Regions from separate parts of the Homo sapiens genome. Here region 2 is linked to region 1. Evidence: fine-mapped expression QTL. A gene starts in region 1. The other region holds a variant in brackets. All regions are shown on one strand. Distances are from middle to middle.

Evidence for each region. PIP is the estimated chance that this variant, and not a neighbour inherited with it, causes the effect. A credible set is the group of variants that fine-mapping cannot tell apart.
Region 2: its variant is the best candidate, but not a certain one, in a credible set for the expression of CYP7A1 in spleen (GTEx, PIP 0.74).

What each region holds. Positions count from the first base shown.
Region 1 is chr8:58,498,626-58,501,561 of GRCh38, reverse strand. CYP7A1 (cytochrome P450 family 7 subfamily A member 1) reads left to right here and starts at 1,399. Exons shown (of 6, transcript NM_000780.4): 1 at 1,399-1,543. The coding sequence starts at 1,464. RefSeq lists an enhancer at 968-1,189, a promoter at 1-1,423 and a silencer at 1,521-2,936.
Region 2 is chr8:57,713,788-57,716,723 of GRCh38, reverse strand. No RefSeq gene overlaps it. Among named protein-coding and RNA genes, the nearest start is that of LINC03018, 31 kb to the left of the region's middle. The variant C/A (reference allele first, on the strand shown) is at 1,583.

The DNA of each region.
Region 1 (2,936 bases):
ATTTATCCAATGGAAGATTAAGCACATATTCAATATAATTATTTATACACACATATAGATACACACATGTATAAATATAGAGAATACTGTGGGTGTATGTGTGTGTGTGTTTATATACATATATATACACACACAGTACTGTTGCCTACCTTCTTTTGTCTTAATTCTGTGAACTCTCATTCACTCTGCTTCAGTAGGATACATCCTTCTTTTTGGTTCTTAGACTCACCAAGTTGATCCTTGACTCAAGACATTGCATTTGCTGCTTCCTCTTCCTGGAATATCCTTCCTTCTGATATTCACATGAGTAGTCTCTTCTTGTCATTCAGATCTCAAATGTCACAATTTCAGAGAGCCCATCTCTGATCATCATATCTAAAGTTGTCCTCATTCCCCCATAGCTTTCTATACCATGTTTTATTTTTTTCATAACATGTATTTTATTACTCCTTTCTCCATTGGAATAGAATCTCCATTAGATTAGGAAATCTGCCTATCTTATTAATGCCTGCAACTGGAATACTTTTGAAGAGTTCTTGGCACGTAATAAATACTCAACTAATATTTTTGTGTACACAGAAATAAAGTTTGGAAGAACAGATGCCAAATTGTTACTAGTGGTTACTTCTGAGTAAAGGAGTAGCATGGTAGGTAAATTATTAATAGATGTTCACTTTCCACCAAGATATGTTTTAGTTAGTCTTAACTTACTTGAAATGAAATTTATTACTTTAATAATTAGAAACATTGATAAACATTTTAGTCACAAGAATGATAGATAAAATTTTGATGCTTCCAATAAGTTATATTTATCTAGAGGATGCACTTATGTAGAATACTCTCTTGAGGATGTTAGGTGAGTAACATGTTACTATATGTAGTAAAATATCTATGATTTTATAAAAGCACTGAAACATGAAGCAGCAGAAATGTTTTTCCCAGTTCTCTTTCCTCTGAACTTGATCACCGTCTCTCTGGCAAAGCACCTAAATTAATTCTTCTTTAAAAGTTAACAAGACCAAATTATAAGCTTGATGAATAACTCATTCTTATCTTTCTTTAAATGATTATAGTTTATGTATTTATTAGCTATGCCCATCTTAAACAGGTTTATTTGTTCTTTTTACACATACCAAACTCTTAATATTAGCTGTTGTCCCCAGGTCCGAATGTTAAGTCAACATATATTTGAGAGACCTTCAACTTATCAAGTATTGCAGGTCTCTGATTGCTTTGGAACCACTTCTGATACCTGTGGACTTAGTTCAAGGCCAGTTACTACCACTTTTTTTTTTCTAATAGAATGAACAAATGGCTAATTGTTTGCTTTGTCAACCAAGCTCAAGTTAATGGATCTGGATACTATGTATATAAAAAGCCTAGCTTGAGTCTCTTTTCAGTGGCATCCTTCCCTTTCTAATCAGAGATTTTCTTCCTCAGAGATTTTGGCCTAGATTTGCAAAATGATGACCACATCTTTGATTTGGGGGATTGCTATAGCAGCATGCTGTTGTCTATGGCTTATTCTTGGAATTAGGAGAAGGTAAGTAATGTTTTATCTTTAAATTGCTCTTTGATTCATCCATTTAATTTTTTTACCTTCATTTTTATACAGTAAATTTGGTTTTCTATACTTACACATATTAGCATTATCTTCCTTATTTTTTAAATGAAAAATTTGATTTGAATTTTTAAAGTAATATCTTTTTTACTATATCTCACAAGACATATGACAGCTTCCCTTTTTAGTATTGGCATATACCGATGGTAATATATAAATGTATATTGGTGTTAAACATAACTGACAGAAATTGTATAAGGTCTCTATGTACATTTATATGTGTATCTAAAGAGGAAGCCCAGATTAGTAAGGATACAAGTAGCAAGTGGGAATCTACAATGGAAAGGATTGCTTTCTCTCACATGGCTTCAATAGATACTCTTGTTAAATAAATGTTCTCTTTTAAGCTCATTCTTGTGCATCGCATAGACTCAGCCTAAGCCTGAACAAGAGCATAGAGCCTGAGCTGATCATTCTATTACTGTTTTTAAATAAATGTTAATCAACTGTGGTGAATTGGGAAAGTTTGCTGAGTGTATGTGACATCGATTTCATTTATTTACAACTGGTTCAAGAATGCAAGAAAAACAAATACAGTCAGATCCAGAACCATAGTTTATTTAACTTCTAATTGGCTCAAGGAGTAATTGTGGGGAGGCATATAGATATTCTCTGCTATGTCAATCTCAAAAAGAGAAAATAACCCTAACCATCTTTCAGCTTTGTAGATTGCTATGTGTTTTCTGCCTTTTGCAGTTTCTTTCAGGCCTGATAGTTTTTACTTTTAATTAAACTACTTATCTTCAAACTAAGAAAAGAAAGGTAATTACTTTATACTGTATTATTCTATCAAGAGGTACAGAAGTTTATGTTGGAAAATAAGTTTACATGTTCTAATAAAAACATTTTAAAGGAGCACTGAATTACAATAGATGATTCCGTCAGTGTTTATCTTACTCAATTTCATTTTATAATAAGCTGATTTCTCACATGAGATTCTTCTTCTCTGAAACCATCCTTATAGAATATAATATAGATATCTTTAAACTAGGAATATTTTCAAAACCTCAGTTCTGAAATCCTCCCTTATTCAGTGATCTGTGTCTTTAAAGAAAATAATCAAAAGAAACATTTTGAGATATTTAGAAAAATGATGCTTAGCAAAGTGATAAACACTAGAATGTAGTTTTGTTTCCGCACTGACAACAAGAATCTTGTTGGTCTTGTAAATCCTTTTGCCTGTATCACTGGGAAAAGTGATGAGCACATAGTAGACGGGTGCTTGTTGAATGTGTATATGGACGGATGCATGAATGGATGGATTTAGTAATCCTTTCCACCAACATATCATGTTACTAGGTTAATATAACCTATT
Region 2 (2,936 bases), 780 kb after region 1:
CCACTATGATTTCATTCTCAACCAGTCAGCAGTACCAATTCCCTGGCCCCCTGCCCACCAAACTGTCTATAAAAACCCCAGCCTCTGAGACTTTGGAGAGACTGATTTGAGTGATTACTCCAGTTCAAGTTCAAGATCAAGATGTCAGCAGCTTTGGTTTTTCCTGAGGCCTCTCTCTTTGGCTTGCAAATGACCATCTTCTCCTTGTGCTTCACATGAGCTTTCTTCTGTGCTTGTCTGTGTCCTAATCTCCTTCTTATAAGGACACCAGTCATGTTGGATTAGGACCCATCCTAATTATTTCATTTAACCTTAGTTACCTTTATAAAGGCCCTGTCTCCAAAACAGTCACATTCAGAGACACTGGGGGTTAGGACTTCAGCACGTGAGTTTAGGGGAGATGTACTTAAGCCCTTTGGGAAAGAAAAAATATTAGAGACTTTCACTGGGGAATCCTCATCAAGATATGTACTTCAGAAAGATTAATCTAGAGGCCATGGATAACATGGATGGCCAGGAGAGAAGAGTAGAGGCCAGCTGGAAGGTCACTGCTCCAACCCTGGGAAGAAATAAAGAGATCTGAAACACAATCATGCCATTGATGACAAAAAGACAGAGTAGAGGAAAAGTATTTCTCCAAGTAAGAATAGTTGGAACTCTCCAGTGGGTTGGATGTGGGGAGCATGGAAGTGACAGGAGTTGATTATCAGCTCAGATAAATGTCTTCAACACAAACAGAAGCATAGCAGGAAGAACCGTTTGAAAGTTTTTTAAAAAGGTGATTATTTGCAACACATCGAGATTGAACTACCAACATCTCCAGATGGAAGTGTCTGCTGTAAACTGGAAATGAGGGGCTTGAATATTGGAGAGGGGCCAGGCTTAGACATATGGTTGTGGGAGTCATTTATTGATCAGCAGAATCTTTAGAGTTAATGAGATTCCCAATGGAGACTGTCAAGAGAGGCACGTGTGTACAGGACTGGTCAGTTGGGAGTGTCTGCATTTAAGGGATGCACCAAGAAAGGCCATCAAAAGAAGGGACAGAAAGAGGTAAAGGAAGAACAAGAGAATGTTATTTAAGCCAATGGAGGGGTTTCCAGAGGCAAACATGGCTGCTCCACAGATATTTGTTAGATAAGTGACCAGTGAATAAATGACTAAATAAACAAATAAAAATGTTTTTGGTCACATACCTTTTGCTTACCAAAGTCTAATATATCTGAGTTTATTTGCTCCATAAATTGGCTCACTGAGAACAAAGCAATAGAGTTTTCCTAGGTGTCAAGTTCTAAAAAACAGAATTCTTTATTATTATTATTATTATTATACTTTAAGTTCTAGGGTACAAGTGCACAACGTGCAGGTTTGTTACATATGTATACATGTGTTATGTTGGTGTGCTGCACCCATTAACTCATCATTTACATTAGGTATATCTCCTAATGCTATCCCTCCCCTCTCCCCCTACCCCACGACAGGCCCCAGTGTGTGATGTTCCCGATCCTGTGTCCAAGTGTTCTCATTGTTCAATTCCCACCTATGAGTGAGGAGATGCAGTGTTTAGTTTTCTGTCCTTGCA[C/A]TAGTTTGCTGAGAATGATTGTTTCCAGCTTCATCCATGTCCCTGCAAAGGACATGAACTCATCATTTTTTATAGCTGCATAGTATTCCATGGTGTATATGTGCCACATTTTCTTAATCCAGTCTATCATTGTTGGACATTTGTGTTGGTTCCAAGACTTTGCTATTGTGAATAATGCTGCAGTAAACATACGTGTGCATGTGTCTTTATAGCAGCATGATTTATAATCCTTTGGGTATATACCCAGTAATAGGATGGCTGGATCAAATGGTATTTCTAGTTCTAGATCCTTGAGGAATCACCACACTGTTTTCCACAATGGTTGAGCTGGTTTACAGTCCCACCAACAGTGTAAAAGTGTTCCTATTTCTCCACATCCTCTCCAGCACCTGTTGTTTCCTGACTTTTTAATGATCACCATTCTAACTGGTGTGAGATGGTATCTCATTGTGGTTTTGATTTGCATTTCTCTGATGGCCAGTGATGATGAGCATTTTTTCATGTGTCTGTTGGCTGCATAAATGTCTTCTTTTGAGAAGTGTCTGTTTATATCCTTTGCCCACTTTTTGATGGGGTTGTTTGATTTTTTCTTGTAAATTTGTTTAAGTTCTTTGTAAATTCTGGATATTAGCCCTTTGTCAGATGAGTAGATTGTAAACATTTTCTCCCATTCTGTAGGTTGCCTGTTCACTCTGATGGTGGTTTCTTTTGCTGTGCAGAAGCTCTTTAGTTTAATTAGATCCCATTTGTCAATTTTGGCTTTTGTTGCCATTGCTTTTGGTGTTTTAGTCGTGAAATCCTTCCCCATGCCTATGTCCTGAATGGTATTGCCTAAGTTTTCTTCTAGGGTTTTTATGGTTTTAGGTCTAACATTTAAGTCTTTAATCCATCTTGAGTTAATTTTTGTATAAAGTATAAGGAAGGGATCCAGTTTCAGCTTTCTACATGTGGCTAGCCAGTTTTCCCAGCACCATTTATTGATGGGGAAAGGATTCCCTATTTAATAAAAACCAGAATTGTTTATTAATATCTCACCCATCTATCCTCTCATGTAAATATGAAAATGGGAACTCTATCCAGCACTCTTTTGGAATTCACAAAATAGCAGGAAGTGTACTAGGAAATGGGTGTTTAAGGACCTTCCTGACCCTGTCTTTCAGCCTGGGTCGTATTAAGGTGCCACCATGCTTGGGGCTTCCTGGGGGTAGGGACCATGCTGACTTGTGGCCAAAGGATCTGGAACTCTTCCAGGCACACACAAAAAAATGAATCTCTGTCCCTCTGAACCTTGCCATCTGTGGTGTGAGAGACATAGCTTCAGATACACGAGCTGCTCCAGAGCCCCAGCTAAATA